Linked DNA regions of Homo sapiens: region 2 is linked to region 1. Evidence: fine-mapped expression QTL. A gene starts in region 1. The other region holds a variant in brackets. All regions are shown on one strand. Distances are from middle to middle. Region 1 holds the start of KCNK13 (potassium two pore domain channel subfamily K member 13). Region 2 overlaps KCNK13 (potassium two pore domain channel subfamily K member 13).

What was found. PIP is the estimated chance that this variant, and not a neighbour inherited with it, causes the effect.
Region 2: its variant is fine-mapped to the expression of KCNK13 in blood mononuclear cells (TOPMed, PIP above 0.99). The same link has a PIP of 0.9 or more in monocytes, monocytes after LPS, monocytes after R848, tibial nerve and whole blood.

The regions. Positions count from the first base shown.
Region 1 is chr14:90,058,021-90,068,629 of GRCh38, reverse strand. It overlaps KCNK13 (potassium two pore domain channel subfamily K member 13), which reads right to left and starts at 6,636. Exons shown (of 2, transcript NM_022054.4): 1 at 6,091-6,636. The coding sequence starts at 6,424. It overlaps LOC124903406, which reads right to left. Exons shown (of 3, transcript XM_047432048.1): 2 at 7,719-8,228; 3 at 6,897-7,268. The coding sequence ends at 7,004. RefSeq lists enhancers at 6,694-7,193, 7,194-7,695 and a silencer at 7,944-8,333.
Region 2 is chr14:90,081,767-90,092,375 of GRCh38, reverse strand. The region is part of intron 1 of KCNK13 (potassium two pore domain channel subfamily K member 13); the gene reads right to left. Among named protein-coding and RNA genes, the nearest start is that of KCNK13, 25 kb to the right of the region's middle. RefSeq lists an enhancer at 2,454-2,954. The variant C/T (reference allele first, on the strand shown) is at 4,915.

The DNA of each region.
Region 1 (10,609 bases):
CTGCATTTCTTTTCTTTTTTTTGCTTGAGACAGGGTCTTGCCCTATTGCCCAGGCTGGAGGGCAGTGGCATGATCATGGTTCACTGCAGCCTCAACCTCAATCTCCTGGGCTCAAGTGATCCTCCTACCTCAGCCCGCCAAGTAGCTGGGACTACAGGCCTGCACCACCACACCTGGCTAATTTTTTCTATTTTTTTTGTAGAGATGGGGTTTCGCCATGTTGGCCAGGCTGGTTTCGAACTCCTGGCCTCAAGCAATCCACCCACCTCCCCCTCCCAAAGTGCTGAGATTACAGGCATGAGCCACCCCGCTGGGCCCAACACGTGCTTTTTTAGCCTGGAAGAAACATTTCTTCTGCAACTTGCCACAAAGGGGATGGGATAACGTTTCCCTGACCCTTTGAAGTAGGGAGTGGTGGTTCTGTGACTTGATTTGGCCAAGGATGTGGGAGTGGAGGGGACCTGTGCTACTTGCAGGTGGTGGTGGCCATTTAATCATTGGTGCTTGACTCTTCAGCCCTTTCTTCCCCTTCTAGAGCAATCCTGGAAGCATGTGCTGAGGAAGAGGAGCCAAGAGACAGAAGAGGCCTGAAGCGCTGGGGCAACACAGAGACAACCGCCCGGCAGCATCACCAGCACCCACAGTGAACTTGGTGTGGGTAAGAAGTACACTTTTATTACATTAAGCTACTGAGATTTTGGGAGTAGCTTGTTACTGCAGCAAAACCTAAGCCTTCCCCGACTCTGTCAAATGCAGAGTACCTCAAACCCTTTGGGGACAGAAGCTACCTACAGATATACCAGCAAACACGGGGACAAGCTCCTAACAAAAGCTAGTTTCAGAGAAAAGATATTCACAGAAGATCATTTACAAGACATACTGTCATTCTACTTTTCTGAGTACTTTAAGTTTATCCCTGTTTCACGTCTGATCTCCAGCCTTTTTCAGAATCAACATTTCTGAATTGTGTTTTAATACTCTGCCCTGAGGTTTTCTTTACTGCAGTCAAATATACTTAACATATTTATCATTTTAACCATTTAAAAGTGTACAATTCAATAGCATTAAATATAATTGCAATGTTGTACAACCATCACCACTATCTATACCCAAAATGTTTTCAGTATCCCAAACTGAAAGTACCCATTAAACAATAACTCCCACTTCTGGCCGTCCCTCAGCCCCTGGTAACCTGTATTTTAATTTATCTCTATGAATTTGCCTATTCTAAGTACCTCATATAAATGGAATCATATGATATTTGTCCTTCTGTGTCTGGCTTATTTTACTAAGCATAATTATTTTCAAGGTCCATCTATGTTACAGCATATATCAAAATTTCATTCCTTTTCGTTTTTTTCTTGAGATGGTCTCACTCTGTCACCCAGGCTGGAGTGCATTGGCGCGATCTCAGCTCACTGCAACCTCTGCCTCCCAGGTTCCAGCAATTCTCCTGCCTCAGCCTCCCAAGTAGCTGGGACTACAGGCACAGGCCACCACACCCAGCTAATTTGTTTATTTTTAGTAGAGACAGGGTTTCACCATATTGGCCAGGCTGGTCTCGAACTCCTGACCTCGTGATCCACCTGCCTTGGCCTCCCAAAGTGTTGGGATTACAGGCATGAGCCACCGTGCTTGGCCAATTTCATTCCTTTTTTTTTGGCTGAATCATATTCCATTGTATGTAGCCCACATTTGGTTAATTCATTCATCCGTTGATGGGCACTTGGGTTGTTTGGATATTGTGAATAATGCTGCTATGAACACTGGCGTACAAATATCTGTTTGAATCCCTACTTTTGATTTTTTTTTGGATATATACCTAGAAATGGAATTGCTGGGTCATAAAGTAGTTCTATGTTTAACCTGTAGAGAAACTGGCAAACTGTTTTTCACTCTAAGCTCTGACTTTTAAGTCAAAAGTCTCAATTAGATCACAGCTACATGAAATCCTCAATAGCATTTTCCAGGAAAATATTGTTTGTGAATATCATCTGTTGTCCTACACAATGTCTCCTACATATAATCCCAAAGAGAAAATACTTTTGAGAATTAGGTACTGGGGCCAGGTGCAGTGGCTCACACCTGTAATCTCAGCACTTTGGGAGGCTGAGGTGGGCGGATCACTTGAGACCAGGATTTCAAGACCAGCCTGATCAACATGGTGTAGCCCTCTCTCTACTAAAAATACAAAAATTAGCTGGGTGTGGTGGCTTGCACCTGTAATCCCAGCTACTTGGGAGGCCAAGGCAGGAGAATTGCTTGCACCTGGGAGGCACGGACGTTGCAGTGAACCAAGCTCATGCCACTGCACTCCATCCTGGGTGGCAAATTGAGACTCCCTCAAAAAATAAAAAAATAAAAAGTGGGTCACACCTGTAATCCCAGCACTTTGGGAGGCTGAGACAGGAGGATCACTTGAGGTCAAGAGTTTCAGACCAGCCTGGCCAACATGTCAAAACCCCATCTCCACTAAAAAAAAAAAAAAAAATACAAAAATTAGCTGGGCCTGGTGGTGCACACCTGTAATCCCAGCTACTTGGGAAGCTGAGGCAGGAGAACTGCTTGAACCCGGGAGGCAGGGGTTGCAGTGAGCCAAGATTGTGCCACTGCACTCAAGCCTAGGTGACAGGGCAAGACTCTGTCTCAAAAAAGGAGAATTAGGTACTGGAAAGGTTTATGTTTCCTCGTTTCTGATATTAAGAATTCTAGTATGGGTCATGACTCTGTCTGCCATGAAGCCTGAAACCAAATCTGAAGCTTGCTGGTTCTCTGCCTTCCATGGGATTCCCCACCATTCCTTGGGATCGTGTTATCATTTCCTGGCACACTGGCCTCATTTCCAACAGCAGAGCCTATCTCTGCGTGAGGGCTACCCTTGGGCTGTCCATGAAAGAAAATAAGGCCAGAAGTACCTGGAAATTACATCCCCGTGCTCCTTTCTCATCCTCCCCAGACAGCTTTTTAACCAATTCCTGACAGGTGTGGTTGTGTAAACATCCCAGCTTTCTTGCATGGGATATCTGGGTCAAGAGCTTTGCTTTGCTTCCAAGCTTCCATTTGGGATTAGGTACCAGTTGCCCACTGTGGCACCTGCCTTAATAGCGTATCCTGGATTAACTTACTTTCCTTCCTCGATTCACTTTCCCTTGCACCGACCTGTATCCCTTGCTCCTCCCAACAAACTGCTTACACTCAAATTCTTGGCTCAAGCTCTGCTTCTAAGGGAACCCAAACTAAGACAAAGTTCCTCTCTAGCAACTTCGTAGCTCCACTTGCATCCCGTATTTCTGTTCTTCTTTTCCCTGGTTCTGAAGTTTTATTTGTATTTTATGATTATTTTCCTGTATACTTTGTCTGCTACCTCAAAGTCTTTGCAGAATAAAGCATGGTGGAATTAATTTTTAGAGGAAAAACACCATCATGTAATGTTACAATAAAAATGCAAGATATGAGTGGTTTATAGAATATAATTCTAATTTTTAAAAATGCATATGTATATAAGTATACGCAGAGGAAAAAGGAGACCAGAAGAAAATGGACCAAAACATGAACAGTGGTTAATTTGGATGATATTACTGCATATAACTTGATTTTTTTCTTCTTTATACTTTATTTTACAAAAAACCTGAACCTTCAGCTTTTTCATCTATAACGGGGGAGTGTTATGCCTACCTCATGGAGTTGTGTTGGCTGAAATGAAGTGTGAATGTCACACAGCAATGAGCTGCATTGCACATTCACATAATAATCATACAGTATGTGCCTAATACGGGCCTGATAAAGGTTAGCCAGTGCTGTTATTACAACAATTAGTGAAACAATTTAAAAGGAAATGTTACAAATGAGAAATAAAAATCAGCCCACACTGACATCATGTTTTTTACCTTTTAACACGCACGCACTTACAAGAGCTCATTGTCCCTCACAAGAACCCTGTGACAGGGGCAGGCTTACGCAGACGGAGGGAGCAGGGGGCAGGACTAATATTCACCAAATAGCTGATGTGCCAGATACCAAGGTGGGCACTCTGTAGATGCCTCAGATGAGAAAAGGATGGGGCTCGGAATAGTTAAGAGGCTTGCCCAAGATACAGAGGCAGGATGAAAAGCTCCCACTCCAGACTCTTTGTCCAGGTTTCTTTCCACTCCTCCATGCCACATTGTCATATTCGTATCCCCAAAGCCCATGTTCCTATATGGCCACCTACCCATGCCACTCTCAGTTCCTGCTACATGGATGCACCTGTCCACACACACACTCTGCTCCTTCCTGCCTCTGTGCCCACTGGGAGCACCAAGAGATGGTTTTTCATGGTGGTGGGAAAGATTCAGCCATCAAATCTCCCATCAAAACCACCCTAAGTTACCATTCAATCTAAAAAAATCCTGTACTTGCTATGCAAACACAGTAGAGTCAAGGTCACTTCCAAAGTGACACCTCCTAATCAGTTTGTTCATCCCAAGTCTTGCCTATGTGGAGATTCTGGAACTGTCTTCTGGGACGTGGGAGGTGATGTGAGGAGGGGCTTGTGGAACACGGCTAAGAGTCCAGCAGATAGTGTGGGCTCAGGGGGAGAACCATGGGGGTGTTATTCCTCCTTCACCAATCTTGGGCCCATTCTGGTCTGCTGCAAGGTTTCCTGCCTGATACCCAGTTATGGTGGTGCCATCATGGCCTGCTGATGGGCCGCACCATCTGGGATGGGATGGGGGCTGGGAGCCAGGCACTTCAGATACAGCCGGTGTGTCCCTAATCATACTGGTCCTCTGCCTCGCCTCCTGTGCATCAGCTGAAGCCCTGGATTCCTGGACTAGCCCTGGGAAGTCTTTCATGATGAATCTGACCTGAAGCCAATCTCTTTTGTCTTTTGTGCTGCTTCTCCTGGCAGAATGTCTATGTAGCACAGCCATGTGTGGGAGCCTCAAGGAGGCTCAACTTGTCGCCCCACCTCACCAGCGAGCTCTTCTAGAGTGCACAGGGGCAGTAGCTACAGAGCGCTCAGCACATGCACCCTGGGCTGTTTGCAACTGCCAGCCTTTTTTGCAGCTTGGAGGCCACTTCCTCTCCGTCTAACTCTTCCAACCTCCCTCCCCTGCTCCAGGTCTCTTTTTGCCCCCCTCAGAATTTATTTCTACAGCATCTTCCCTAACCCCCATTAATCACTTGATTATTCTTCAAGGATGAACAATCTTTAGGGGTGTGGCGCAGACTCCCCCAAATCATTTTCCTTCTGCTGGGAAATAAACACAGCTGATTGTAGCTGTGCTACATCTTTGCTAAAAAATTCTCAATGGCTCCCAGGTGCCTCTAGGTAAATTCCAGCTCCTCAGTCTGTCAGTGAAGGTCCTACCCCCGCCTCCATCCCATTAGCCAGCAGACCTTCCTAGTCTTCCTTCCACCACTCCAACCAGCTCATGGGGCCCCTGAGTGCGATTCTCTCCTACTCTAGAGTGCAACCGCGCTTTCAGTTCCCAAACCCAAGTTATGCCTAACACGAATTGATTCAGCCCAAAGGTCACTTCCCTGGTTCTTCCTGGTGGAAAATTTTCCATCTTTTGAACCGTCATTGGCACTTTTGCTTCCTCACTTTCAGTCTGCTGTTCTGATTTTTTCTCGGTAAGTGTGAAGTCGAGGGCAGAATCTTTTAAAATCTGCACTTCCCCTCTGACTGACTCAGTAAATGTTTAGTTTCCTGTCCCTATCTGTAAAAGCCTTCTTCCCCATGAACTCAAGCCGTGTCTCCTTCATTAGACTGAAAATCTCCCAGAGCAGAGCGTCTCCAATTTAAGGATCATTCCAATCCTTTGGGGACTTTGTTAACATGCAGATTCTGACTCGGCAGGTCTGCAGAGGGGACTGAGACTGCATTTCTAACAAGCTGCCAGGTGACGCTGAAGCTGCCGGTGCCTGGACCACATTAGAGCAGCGGGGAGGCAATACCACCTGTTGATCAGGCGACAGCTCATGTCAGTGGAGTCTGGCTGGGCGCCCAGATGGATGAATGAAAGGATGAGAGGGTCGGTCCTGCCCCCCGGAGGAAGTGGAGGCCGCCCGGAGGTTGTCAGCGAGTCCGGCCAGCACACTTACCTATGGTGGAAACGACGGTGCCCACGAAGTAGAAGGCGCCGGTGAAGTCCCAGCGCGGGCGGACGTTGTCCACGCGGATGCCGGCCCGAGTGGCCTCCTCGTAGTGGCGGAGGAAGCCGCGCAGCTCGTCGCGGCTCAGGTTGTGGCCGCGGCTGAAGTTGGCCAGGCGCTCCTCCCAGCGCTGCTTGGCCTGGCGCTCGTGCGCCAGCTCCAGCGCGGAGAAGACGGCGGCGCCGCCCAGCAGGTAGAGCACGATGAGCGCGGCCAGCAGCAGAAAGCGCGCGTTGTCCTCGTTCAGGTGGCCCGGGCCCCAGCTGAAACCCCGGCCAGCCATGGCCGGGCCCCCGGGGGCAGCCCCCAGGCCCACGGCACCGGGCGTCGGCGGAGTCTCGCCCACACCCCCGGGAAATAAGGGCCCCGGCGCTCAGCCAGCTCCCGGGCGCCCCACCGCCGGCTCGCCCATGACCGCCGGGCTCTCCCGCAGGCCGCGAGGCTCCCCCGGCCGCCGCCTCGGTAGCTCCTGTGGCGCCAGCTCCCCACGTCCTCCTTGACTCCTAGTTTCAAATCCGCTTTGTCGCCGCCGTTCCCCTCCACTCCCCCTGCTCTCCTCGGAGTTCTCCTTAACGCTGAAGGTCCCGGGGAACGGGCGCAGAGTTCACGTCTGCTTGGCGCTGGGATGCGGGCGCAGTTTCCACCCCGGCTCCCTGTCCGGCTCAGATAGGGGAGGGGGCGTGGCGCGTCTTCAGGGCAAGCTCGAGCCAACTCGAGTTTCCCGCAAAGAGACGGTCGCGGGGCGGGGCGGGGCGGGGCGGGGCGGCGGGGGGGGGGCGCGGTCCGGAGGTCTGCGGGTAAGCAGAGCGCCGGGGTCCTGGGTCCTGGTTCCTTTGACTATCGCTTCGCAGGCCGCCGACGGCTAGGACACGGGTGTCAGTCTGCTGGCTTTGTAGGTGCCTCCCCAGGTAGATCGACGATGGTGCCTCCTAGTTGTGGTCGTGGTGTCGCGCTGAGCCTGTGGCCTCCCGAGTCTCCGAATCGGCTGCCGGGGCTTAGGGATGGAGGGGGTCCAGGGCGGGCGCACGGAGAGAGGGGCTGTGCTGAGCGGCGTCCGAGGGCTGCGGCGTCCGAGGGCTCCGACCTCCGGCCGGGCCCCAACGCTGCGCATCCGTTGGGCGGACGGGCTGGAGAGAGGAGACCAGAAAGGGAGGTTGGAACAGGGAGCAAAGGAAGTTAGGGGCTTCTCCCCCGGGCAGCCTCCCTCGCCTTGACCATGCCAGAGCGCCCTTGGTCTCTGGATCCTGCGCGGGGGCGTCCTCTGCGCCTACTAGTAGGCTCCGCCCGGACCAAGCGCGCACCGCGAGCCAGCCCCGCTTCCGGAGAGGAGGCCAAACACTGGGGGCTGGAAGGGCTCCGCGGCCAGGAGACCTTGACCTTGGAGCGTTCCATCTCTTCCCCCCGGGCTTGGCTGCCTAGTGCGTTCCAGAGTTTTGCCTGGACGCGGGGTCCGCGCAGAAGGCATCCCCCACCTCATGCAGAACAGTAGCAAGGCTCTCCAGCAAACCGCCGGGGCCCCCTCCCCGAGACCCCGCCTTGTAGCGGGCGCTGGCGCCGCTGCCGCGCTCAGATCTCACCTTCCGGGGAGCGCCCTCTCCGCGCCGCTCCGTCGGGACTGTTCCCGGGCCTCCTGGCAGCCGCGGCCCTGCCCTGCCAGCCGGCGCGCGGAGCACAGGTCCGCACCGCGCTCTGCCTTCTCAGGCGGGCGCGCTCCGACGCTGCAACAGGTAGAGCCGTGCGGCTGCCAGCTGCGGCGACTCCACCCTGTCGCCCGCCTCCTTGCGCGCGGGCCCGCCTCCTGCGCTGGTCTCCGCGGGTAGACGCTCGGCGTTCGAAGGGCCGACCCGGGGCTGCGGTGCTCCCACCAGGGCGCGCAGATCTGGGTAGTGGATGCAGAACCGGCTGGTGGGACGCTCAGCCGGTCCGCGTGGGCCCTCCGGGGCCGGGAGAGGGCGCTCTGCCCCCTCCAGACACATCCCGCCCCCGCCCGCGCACACAGCCCCGCGCGGCCCTCCGGAATCACCCGCCCGGGCGTGTGGGAGCGAATCTGTACGCGGAGAGGAATGGATACGTGGGCATCTTCCCACCTTCCGAGAGAGCGGTTTCAGGCGCAGAGCCCCACACACCGCCCTTACGCACCAGGAGCAGAGACAGAAGGGCTAGGAGCCCTGTTGAGTAAAACCGTGTGATTTCGAATAAAGAAACACAGCTCTGGCGAGTGCATTTTCATCAGAAACCCTGGTGCTGTTAGCAGTCCTCTCGGCTCTGTTACTCACTCCCCAATGCCCCTCTTTCATCTAGCCTTCTGAGGGGCAAGAGCTTTAGGGGCATCGCGAGAATGGGTGCATGTGTATACACCCAGGGTGAGTACTGCAATTACCTTTTAAATCCATTTTATTATGAAAAATTTCAAACATTCTAAAAAGTTGAATTTTACAGTGAACACCCGTATACCCACCACCTAGATTCTACAATTAACATGTTACTATACTTGATTTATTAGATATCTACCCGTCCCTCTGTCCATCCATCAACCCATCTTGTTTGGATGCATTTCAGAGTAAGTTGCAGAGCTTGGTACACTTCCGCCCTCATCCCCAGTACTTCTGCCTGCATATCACTACGTAGGGTTCAATATTTACTTGCAGAATTTTTTTCCTTTTCGGATAAAATTTACATACAATGAAATGCACAAATCTTAAGTGTATCATTAGGTGAGTTCTGACAAATGGGTACACCTCTGCAAATCACCTATCCAACCTACCAGCCAAACATCACCAACAGGGTCCCCCTAAGTCCCTTCCCTGTAACTCCCTACCCACATTCCTCCAGAGAAAACCACTGTTCAGAATTTTTCTACCATCGATTACTTTCGCTTTTATAGAACTGTTTTTTTGTTCTAAATCTCCATATAAATGGAATCATGCCGGTATGTACTCTTTGGTGGAAAACATTATGTTTTTGAGATTTACCCATGTTATATGTCTTAGTAATTCCTTCCTCTTTATTGCTAGTTTTTCATTGTTTGGGTATACCATAGTTTGTTTATTCATTCTCCTCCTATTGATAGAAAGGAGAACTGTTAGAAAATTTTGGTCATCATAAATAAAACTGTTAGGAACATTCTTGTACAACTATGTAGACATATGTTTTCATATCTCTTACGTAAAGACCTAGGAGCGGAATTGCTGGGTCATAGGGTAGGTATGTATTTTGCTTTATGAGAAACTGCCCGACATTTTCCCAAAGCAGCTGTACTGACAGTGTACACTAGTTCTGGATGCTCCGTATCTTTGTCAACATTTGGCAGTATCAGTCATTTTAATTTTAAAACTACTGGTGGATGTAGCAATATCTCACTGTGGTTTTAATTTGCATTTCCCTGATGTCTAAAAATACTGGTGGATGTAGCGATATCTCACTGTGGTTTTAATTTGCATTTCCCTGATGTCTAATGCGCTTGCTGGCCACTTGTGTACCTTCTCTTGTGAATTTTCTGTTGAAATATTTTGCCCACTTAAAAAATTAGTTTCTCTGTTACTGAATTATAGAGATCCTTTATATATGCAGGATACGAGTACTTTCTCAGATACATATCTTGCAAATATTTTCTAACTCTGATTTGCCTATTTATTTTCTTAAATATGTTTTCTGTATGTTTGGTGCCCTTTGAGAAATCATTACCTCCTTCAAGGTTGCATAGGTTTTCTGTCTCCCCACACTTTTATATTTGGGTCTACGATCCATTTAAGTTTGTTTCCTTATGGTATGAGGTAAGAGTCAAAGGTCATTTTGTCCAGGTGGATTTCCAGTTATTCCAATGCTATTTGTTGAAAAGATAAATATGCCTGAGTTTCAGGAATTTAATTTGTTCATTATTTGCCCACCCTTATGCTAATACCACAGGATTTACATACTTATAGCTCTATAGTAGGTCTTTAGTGGGACTATAATTGAGTCCTCTAACTTTGTTCTTCTTTTTCAAGATTCTTTGGATGTTATAAAACTTTTACACTTCCACTAAAAAATCATAGAATCAGCTTAATTTCCTCCAAAAAGCTGTGGGATCTTGATTTCTGGGATTGTGTTGGATCTATTTTGGGAAGAACATCTTGACAATTCATGAAAGAGGTATATTCCTCTATTTATTTAGGGTTTCTTAACCAAGTTTTCATATGGAGATTTTGCACATCTCTTGTAAATTCATTCTAAAGTATTTTATATTCTTTTGATGTTATTGTAAATGGAATTTCAAAATTTTACTTTTCAATTGTTTGCTGTAGTCCATAAAAATACACGATTGTTGCAAAAATACTTGAATTCTTCAACCTTGCTACTTTAGTCATCAGTTGTACATGTTTTGTTGATTCCTTTAGGAGTTTCTTTGTAAATAATCATGTCATCTACAAGTTTTGCTTTTTTCTTCCTGATCTTTATCATCTTTTCCCCCTCTTGTCTGCAACGGCTA
Region 2 (10,609 bases), 24 kb before region 1:
AATTATTAGAAAGAAAAACCTGCACAGATGGATGTAGTTTAGCAGTGGGTTTCTCTCTACCTCCCAATCAACATGGAGTTGTTCACAGAGGAGTCACTACAAATGTTTTGCAAGGTAAATGTTTGCAAAAAGTGTCTTTAAGAATGGAGCTCCCGGCTGGGTGCGGTGGCTCACGCCTATAATCCCAGCAATTTGGGAGGCCAAGGCGGGCAGATCACGAGGTCAGGAGATGGAGACCATCCTGGCTAACATGGTGAAACCCCATCTCTACTAAAAAATAAAAAAAATTAGCCAGGTGTGGTGGCGGGCACCTGTAGTCCCAGCTACTCGGGAGGCTGAGGCAGGAGAATGGCGTGAACCTGGGAGGCAGAGCCTGCAGTGAGCTGAGATCGCTGCACTCCAGCCTGGGGGACAGAGTGAGACTCTGTCTCAAAAAAAAAAAAAAAAGGAGTTCTCTTTCCCAAAATGAAATTGATTTTATTCTTAAATAACAGCATTCTTGCCAACGTTTAGGTAAGTACATAATAATGCAATTCTTAACATAGCTACCACTGCTTTTCTGATGGTCTTCTCCTTCTCCCCTGCCAGCACTGGTAACTCCAGGACTCTCTCCATAGACTCTGTTTCAAACCTCACTTCCTAAATCATCTTCAGGAGCACTCTACCCCACCGAGAAGAGGGTATTGGCATGTCTTTTACCCTTCATGCATCACTGTCTGCATGGAACTCATAAATAATGAGGCATTTGGCATGCCCAGTGTTCTGCATTCCAGGTTTAAGAGCAGCCTTTCCCCCAGAAACAGGCTTTTGGGCATTATCCAAAATCAACATGGATGGTATCCAACAAGACCTTAGAGATGCTATTTTTCTTTGACTGTGCTGTGTCAACTGGCTACTGTATAGGACTTGATACATTTTTAATGACTGTACTGAGTTTCCTCTGAACTTGTCACTTTTCACCATTTCCAGTTAGTGGGTCTTAATTTCCCATAGGAAAACCTTTAGCCAGCCATAGAGTTCATTCTTTACCGGTTCGATTCTCATTAATTAAATATCCTAAGTGGAAAAGCTCTTGCGCCTACTGATTGGGACACCCAGAGGGAAATCAACAAGAATGGAATAAAATCTCCATGCACCCCATCAGGAAAACCTTGACTGCTCCATGATCAAACTGGATGCAATTTAAAAAAATAATATCATGTGGGGCCCTCTAACTCTTTCTTGAGATTCTGATTAAAAATCTAGGTGATAAGATCACTTGGTTCACATATCTCAGAGACAAGAGGAACCTCGGCACTTGAGCCAAGGGACAGGAAAGAGGTCAAACATAGAGATGAATGGCAGGTGACACTCAGCCTAGGCAGGTGGGACCAGAAGAAGCACTGAGCTCCCTGTATTATTCTGTTTTCATGCTGCTGATAAAGGTACCCGAGACTGGCAAAAAAGAGGTTTAATGGACTTATAGTTCCACATGGCTGGGAAGGCCTCACAGTCATGGCAGAGGGCAAGGAGGAGCAAGTCATGCCTTACATGGATGGCGGCAGGCAAAGAGAGCTTGTGAAGGGAAACTCCTGTTTTTAAAACCACCAGATCTCATGAGACACATTCACTATCACGAGAATAGCATGGGAAAACCCACCTCCATGATTCAATTACCTCCCACTGGGTTCCTCTCATGACACGTGGGAATTGTGAGAGTTACAATTCGAGATGAGATTTGGGTGGGGACACAGCCAAACCATATCATTCTGCCCTGGCCCCTCTCAAATATCATGTCCTCACATTTCAAAACCAATCATGCCTTGCCAACAGTCCCCCAGAATCTTAACTCATTTCAGCATTAACTCAAAAGTCTACAGTCCAACATCTCATTGGAGACAAGGCAAGGCCCTTCTGCCTATAAGCCTGTAAAATCAAAAGCAAGTTAGTTACTTCCTAAATACAATGGGGGTTCAGGCATTGGGTATACCCACTCCAAATGGGAGAAACTGGCCAAAATAAAGGGGTTACAGGCCCCATGCAAGTCTGAAATCCAGCAGGGCAGTCCAATCTTAGAGCTCCAAAATTATCTCCTTTGACTCCATGTCTCACATCCAGGTCATGCTGATGCAAGAGGTGGGTTCCCATGGTCTTGGGCAGCTCTGCCCCTGTGGCTTTGCAGGACACAGCCTCCCTCCCGGCTGCTTTCATGGCTGGTATTGTCTGGCTTTTCCAGGCACATGGTGCAAGCGGTCGGTGGATTGACCATTCTGGGGTCTGGAGGATAGTGGCTTTCTTCTTACAGCTCTGCTATGTGGTGCCCCAGTAGGGGCCCCCAGTAGGGACTCTTTGTTGGGGCTACAACCCCACACTTCCACACTGCCCTAGCAGAGGTTCTCCATGAGAGCCCCGCCCCTTCAAGCAAACTTCCACCTGGACATCCAGGCATTTCCACCATCCTCGGAAATCTAGGCAGAAGTTCCCAAACCTCAATTCTTGACTTCTGTGCACCTGCAGGCTCAACACCACACGGAAGCTACCAAGGCTTGGGGCTTGCACCCTCTGAAGCCACAGCCTGAGCTGTACCTTGGCCCCTTTTAGTCATGGCTGGATTGTCTGGGACACAGGACACCAAATCCCTAGACTGCACACAGCACGGGGACCCTGGGCCTGGCCCACAAAGCCATTATTTTCCTAGGCCTCCGGGCCTGTGATGGGAGGGGCTACTGTGAAAACCTCTGACATGCCCTGGAGATATTTTCCCCATTGTCTTCGGGATTAACATTTGGCTCCTCGTTACTTATGCAAATTTCTGCAGCCAGCTTGAATTTCTCCTCGGAAGATGGGATTTTCTTTTCTATCATATTGTCAGGCTGCAAATTTTCCAAACTTTATGCTCTATTTCCCTTATAAAACTGAATGCCTTTAACAGCACCTTCAATAGCACCTCTTGAATGCCTTGCTGCTTAGAGATTTCTTTTGCCAAACACCCTACATCATCTCTCTCAAGTTCAAAGTTTCACAAATCTCTAGGGCAGGGGCAAAATGCCTTGAGTCTCTTTGCTGAACATAACCAGAGTCATCTTTGCTCCAGTTCCCAACAAGTTCTTCATCTTTGTCTGAGACCACCTCAGCCTGAACCTTATCGTTCATATCACTATCAGCATTTTTGTCCAAGCTATTCAACAAGTCTCTAGGAAGTTCCAAACTTTCCCACATTTTCCTGTCTTTTTCTGAGCCCTCCAAACTGTTCCAGTCTCTGCCTGTTACCCAGTTCCAAGGTTGTTTCCACATTTTCAAGTATCTTTTCAGCAATGCCCCACTCTACTGGTATCAATTTACTCTATTAGTCTGTTTTCATGCTGCTGATAAAGACATATCCGAGACTGGGAAGAAAAAAAGGTTTAATGGACTTACGTTCCACATGGCTGGGGGGCCTTACAATCATGGCAGAAGACAAGGAGGAGAAGTCAAGTCTTACATGGATGGTGGCAAGCAAAGAGAGCTCATGCAGGGAAACTCCTGTTTCTGAAACCATCAGATCTCATGAGACTCATTCTCTATCATGAGAATAGCACAGGAAAGACTCAACCCCATAATTCAATAACCTCCCATCAGGTTCCTCCCATGACACGTGGGAATTGTGGGAGTTACAATTCAAGATGAGATTTGGGTGGGGTAAGAGCCAAACCATATCACTCCCCAAAGGGATCATCTGTAGCTCATCTTCAGTGAATGGCTGGCACAGAGGAATGTGGGCCTGACATTGCCAGATTTTCCATTTTCCCAAGAGAAATCAGAAATCTATATTTCGACTGGGAAATCTGATGTTAAAAAGTTGACAGTGAATTCAGGTTTTCTCAAGCACTCTGAGGTCCACAGCAGTGAGGTGGAGCTGGCTGGGAAAGGCGCCTGAGAGCTGACTGTGCACATCTCTTCTCTATTCTGCCTTCTGCCTTCGGGAACTTCACTTTTATGGCTTGAAACCAGCCATTGTGGGAATATTTACACCACAGAAATAGGCAAATGCTATGAATCAGAGCTTTCTTTCTTTCTTTCTTTCTTTTTAAGCTTGTTGTTAAACATTTACCAACTCATCAACATCTGTGGACCTAATAAAGCATGTTGCCTTTGGTCCAAGGCCAGTGGCAATTTCTAATTTAAACTTAAGCAAGAAGCCAGCCTGGGCAACATGGTGAAACCCTGTCTCTACTACAAATACAAAAATTAGCCAGGCATGGTGGCACACACCTGTAATCCCAGTTACCCGGGAGGCTGAGGTGTAAGAACCGCTTAAACCCAGGAGGTGGAGGTTGCAGTGAGCTGAGATCACACCACTGCACTCCAGCCTGGGTGATAGAGCGAGACTCTGTCTCAAAAATTAAAAAATAAAAATAAATAAATAAATAAACTTAAGCAAGAAGTAGCATTGAATCACCAAGAAGCAATATTATATATTCCAAAATCAGCATTTACAGCCAAGTATACATGGCATGCTGAAACCACAGGGTAGGTGGTGGGCTAAGCACCAGAAGGACATCATCACTAGCTGAGAAGGCAGAGACAAGGGAGCAGGGCGGGAACTCTGAACAAAGTCCCCTACACTGTACAAAGGGTACTCTATAAATAGGACATTTCCAAATGCTTGCTTCTTCCCCCACTGCTCTAAGGGACTGTGGTAAATTATGCTGCCAATGATGACCCTCAGCACCTGGCAACATCCTGAAATGGCTTCTGAATCATCACAAAGAGCTGAGATTATGCTGCGCAGTGATTGAGCAACGAGAGTGTTGCAAGTCCGTTTTCAAACAACTACAAGTGGATGAATGCTCTATCATGAGAAGCGGGGATGGAGGCAGTGGCAGGTTCCCTTTTTCTCTTCATTCAAAACTAGCCTAACCTTGGTCTGGTTCTCAATTCCTGTTTTCTGCTACC[C/T]GGAGCCTTTGGCAGTCTGGGGAAGTGTATTGGTCCCTTCTTAGAATAATTTATTTTTAATGAATGAAATAAAATGTATAAAATTACAAAAGCAGCTGTATTAAAACACAGTTACTAAACAATGAAATAAATGTGCGACACATTAAATGTGCTTTGTTATTAAACCACGAAATAATGGCCTGGGCAAGTGGCTCTTGCCTGTAATCCCAGCACTTTGAAAGGCTGAGGCAGGCAGATTGCTTCAGCCCAGGAGTTTGAGACCAGCCTGGGCAACATAGTGAGGCCCCATCTCAATAAAAAAAAAAAATATATATATATATATATATATATATGTATATATATATGTATATATATATAAAATGAAATAATAAAATTAAGGCTAATAACCACCATGATTTTAAGGTAGTGGTGAGGGTGAAGGATAAGGGATCTGCCCTGACTATCAGGTGGAGGGAATGGATCTGTGATTTCACTGGTGCCAAAGCTACAGGCCCTGCTCATCCTATGTCAGGGTTGTTACCTACATTCATCATTCATCATTGGAAGATATGCTCAAGGTTAGTCCCTCAGGGGTTAGTTGGATGCCAGTAAATATAAAGATGGAATTATTTTACCATCTACATTTATAGATGCTCTGAATTCTATTCATGGGCCCGGCTTAAGAACTCCTGCAGTCAGGTTGGGCCAATAGTAAGAACTCAATAAATTCTGACTGAACCAAACTGAGGTTTACATTTGATATGGGATGAGTGCTGGGTGTGGTTCTAAGGAGATAAGCAGGGAAGAAAGACACCATTCAAACCAAGCATGGGACCCCCAGACGTCTTCCTTAGTATACAACCTGGCAGCCCTGTTTCTTCAAAGCAATAGCCTGCAAAATATATTCATCAGTAACATCAAATAAAACACAAAAACATCCACTGATGACAAAAAGAAATACTGAACCGGGGCCATAGGTTTTATTTCAGTTTTCACTAGAATTTTGACTATCTTGGAGGCTACCCACCACTTCTCCCAGTTTAAATCATGGCTGAACAAAGTTTGAAACAAAGTTTTACCACCTACTAGCTGTGTGGCTTTGGGCAAGCTATGTAACCTCTGTGCTTCAGTTTTCTCACCTATAGAATGGGGGAAAATAATAGTCCTACCCCATAGGATGAAAGTTTATCTATGTAGAGCTCTTTGTATAGTACCACAGGAGAGGAAAAATATAGTATATGTTAGCAGTGAGAATAAGATTATTGCAAATTAGCTGACAATATTTAAATTTAAAAATTCTCCAAAACTTGGCAGTACCTATAAAATATTTAAAATTTAAATACTACAGTGAAAATATGGTGTATAAAGCAGTTGTGCTAGCAAATAATTAGCAATAACCTATGTCTTACAATAGGAAGAATGGTTAAATTAATGAATATCCATATCATAGTTAAGTATCCTGGGCAACCTCACAAAGATACAAGAACTACGAATGAACATGCCCCAACTAATTCTATAGATCTATAGTATTATCCTGATACCAAAACAAGACAAAGGGCATAAGAAAAGGAAAAAGGGCACAAGAAAAGGAAAAAGGTAGATAGATAGATATAAATTTATATATTATATATTTATATAATATCTATATAATATATAATATATAATATATAATATAATATATAATATAAAGTATATAATATATAATATATATAATTTATATAATATATAATATATAATTATATAAGTATATATATATTATATATAAGTATATATAATATATAAATTTATATACATAAATAAAATATATATATATATTTTTTTTTGAGACAGAGTCTCACTCTGTCACCCAGGCTGGAGTGCAATGGCATGGATCTCAGCTCACTGCAACCTCCGCCTCCCGGGTTCAAATGATTCTCCTGCTTCAGACTCCTGAGTAGCTGGGAGTATAGGCATGTGCCACCATGCCCGGCTAATTTTTGTATTTTTAGTAGAGACAGGGTTTCGCCATGTTGGCCAGATTGGCCTCAAACTCCTGACCTCAGGTGATCCACTCGCCTCGGCCTCCCAAAGTGCTAGTATTACAGGAATAAGCCACTATGCCCGGCCTATTTCTTTTGAATACTGATGCAAAAATCCTAAACAAAATACTAGCAAACCAAATGCAGCAACATATTAAAAAAATTATACACCATAATCAAGTAGGACTTATCTCAAGATTGATTTAATATCCGAAAATTAGGCTGGGCACAGTGGCTCACACCTGTAATCCTAGCACTTTGGGGAGGCCAAAGTGGGTGGATTGCTTGAGGTCAGGAGTTCAAGACCAGCCTGGCCAACATGGTGAAACCCCATCTCTACTAAAAATACAAAAAATTAGCTGGGCGTCGTGGCACACGCCTGTAATCTCAGCTACTCCAGAAGCTGAGGCACAAGAATCGCTTGAACCTGGGAGGCAGAGGTTGCAGTGAGCCAAGATCACGCCACTGCACTTCAGCCTGGGGGACAGAGTGAAACTCCATCTCAAAATAAATAAATAAATGAATAATAATAAAAAACAAAAATCAATGCAAAACATTATATAAATAGCATAAAAAATAAAACCACATGATCATCTCAATAGATGTGGAAAAAGAATTTGGCAAAAATCTAACAGCTCTTTGTGATAAAAACATTCAACACACTAGAAATAGAAGGGATCTTTCTCAACCTGGTAAAGGCCATCTACAAAACCAATTTCATACTCAATAGTGAAAGACTGAAACTTTCCTTCAAGATCAGGAATAAGATAAAGAGGCCCACTCTTATCATCTCTATTCGACATTGCAGTGGGAGTTCTAGTCAAGCATGAAATAAAGGAAATAAAAGAAATCCAGATGGGAAAGAAAGAACTAAAACTATCTGGACACACAGGTGACATATTCATGTATATAGAAAATCCTAAGGAACTGACTGAAAATTTTTAGAGTTAATACATTAGCGTAGCAAGGCCACAGGATACAAGACCAACATGCAAAAACTAATTCCATTTCTACACACTTGCAATAAACAATTCAAAATAAAATCAAGAAAACCATTTCATTTGCAATAGGATTAAAATAATGAATGACTTAAGAAATTTTTTTAAAGTCCAAAACTTATGCTCCAAAAAACTATAAAACATTGTTTAAATAAATTAAAGGATCAAAATAAATGGAAAGACATCCCATGTTCATAGATTGGAACACTTAATATTGTTAAGATGGCAAAATTCCCCAAATTAATTCAATGTAAGTCTTCTTTGCAGTAATTGATAAACTGATGTTAAAATTCACATGAAGTTCAAGGGACCCAGAATAGCCAAAACAATCTTGGGGGAAAAAAAACCAACAACATTGGAGGACTCACACTTCCTGATTTCAAAATTTACTACAAAGCCACAGTAATCAAGACACTAGAATAAGGACAGACAGATAGGTCAATGGAATAGAATTGAGAGTCCAGATGTCAATTTCATGTTTATGGTTAATTGATTTTTGTCAAGTGTGCTAAAACAATTAAATGGGGCTAAGACTAGTGATTTTTGTCAAGTGTGCTAAAACAATTAAATGGGGCTAAGACTAGTCTTTTCAACAAATGATGCTGGAACAACTGGATATCCACATGCAAAAGAATTAAGTTGGATCCTGTCTTAGTCCATTCTGTGGTGTTATAACAAAATACCGCAGACTGGGCAATTTACAAAGAACAGAAATTTACTTCTTAGAATTTTGAGGCTTCAAAGTCCAAGATCAAGACACTGACAGTTTGAAAGGGTCTTCTTGCTGTCATCACAGGAGGGAATACATCACATCGTGGAAAGGCAAGGAGAGAGAGAAGGAGGCCAAACATGCCCTTTTATAACACAATTAATCCCATCCAAGTGGGCAGAGCCCTCATCACCTAATCACCTCTTAAAGGTCCCACCTCTTTATATTGTTATAATGGCAATTAAATTTCCATGTGAGTTGTGGAGGAAACAAACACTGAAACCACAGCAGACCCATGTTTCATACCATGCACAAAAATTAACTCAAAATGGATCAACAACCTGAATGTAAGAGTGAAACTATAAAACTCTTAGAAGAAAACATAAGTATAAATCTTCATGACCTTAGATTAGGTAATGGTTTCTTACAATATGACACTAAAAGCATAAGCAACAAAAGGAAAAATAGAACTCTATCCAATAAATTGGACTTTATCAAAATTTAAAGCTTTGGTGCTTCAAAGAACATCAAGAAGATAGTGAAAAGACACCCACAGAAGGGGGAAATATTTGCAAATCATATATCAGTTAATGGACTTGAACCTAGAATATATAAAGCACTTTCATAACTCAGTAATAAAAGGACAAATAACCCAATTAAAAGATGGGCAAAGAATCTGAACAGATCTTTCTTTTAAGATAGTATACAAATGGCCAATAAACACACAAAAATGCTCAGTATCATTTGTCATTAAAGAAATGCAAATCAAAACCACAATATTATACTATTTCACATCCAAAGAGAGATAGTAAAGTGTTGGAAAGGGTGTGGAGAAATTGGAACCCTTGTACACTGTCGGTGGGAATATACAATGTTATAGCCATTTTGGAAGTTTGTCCAAAGATAAAGAATAGGGTTACTACATGACCTAGCAATTCCAAACCTACATGCTCAAGAGAAATGAAAACATATGTCCACACAGAAAACTTGTGTTCTGTGGACATACGTTTTTATAAACTTATTCGACATTGTATGGTATTATTCATAGTAGCTAAAAAGTGGAAACAATGTAAATGTCCATCAACTGATTAACTGATAAATAAAATGTGGTACATTCATGTAGCAGAATATTATCTGGCAACAAAAAGGAGAGAAGTACTAATACATGCTACAACTTGGCTCACTTGAAAACATGCTAAGTGAAAGAAGTCAGTCACAAAAGCCCACATGTTGTATGATTCCATTTATATGAAATGTCCAGAATAGGCAGATCTATAGAAATAGAAAGTAGATTATTGGTTGCCTAAGGCTGGAGGGGATAGTGTCTTAGTTCATTATGTGTTGCTCAGGTAACACAATACCTGAGACCAGATAATTAATAAAGAAAAGAGGAGGCCAGGCACGGTGGCTCATGCCTGTAATCCTAGCACTTTGGGAGGCCGACATAGGCAGATCATCTGAGGTCAGGAGTTCAAGACCAGCCTGGCCAACATGACAAAACCCTGTCTCTACTAAAAAAAAAAAAAAAATTAGCTGGGTGTGGTGGCATATGCCTATAGTCCCAGCTACTGGGGAGGCTGAGGCAGGAGAATCACTTAAGCGCAGGAAGCAGAGGTTGCAGTGAGCTGAGATCATGCCACTGCACTCCAGCTCGGGCAACAAAGTGAGACTCTGTTTTGAAAAAGAAAACAGGTTTATTTAGCTCATGGTTTTGCAGGCTGGGAAGTTCAAGATTGAGCAACTGAATCTAGTGGCTTCTGGCAAGAGCTTCACACTGCATCAAAATATGGTGGAGAAATGGAAAGGAAAACAGGCAAAATATGAGAGGCAACCTCCCTTTATAACAATCCACTCTCACTGGAACTAATCCATTCCTGAGAGAACCAACCCAGTCTGGAGAGAAAGACATTAATGGATCTTAATGTCCTCATCATTCCTTCAAGGCGCCACCTCCCAACACTGCCACACTGGGACCAAGCCTCAACATGAGT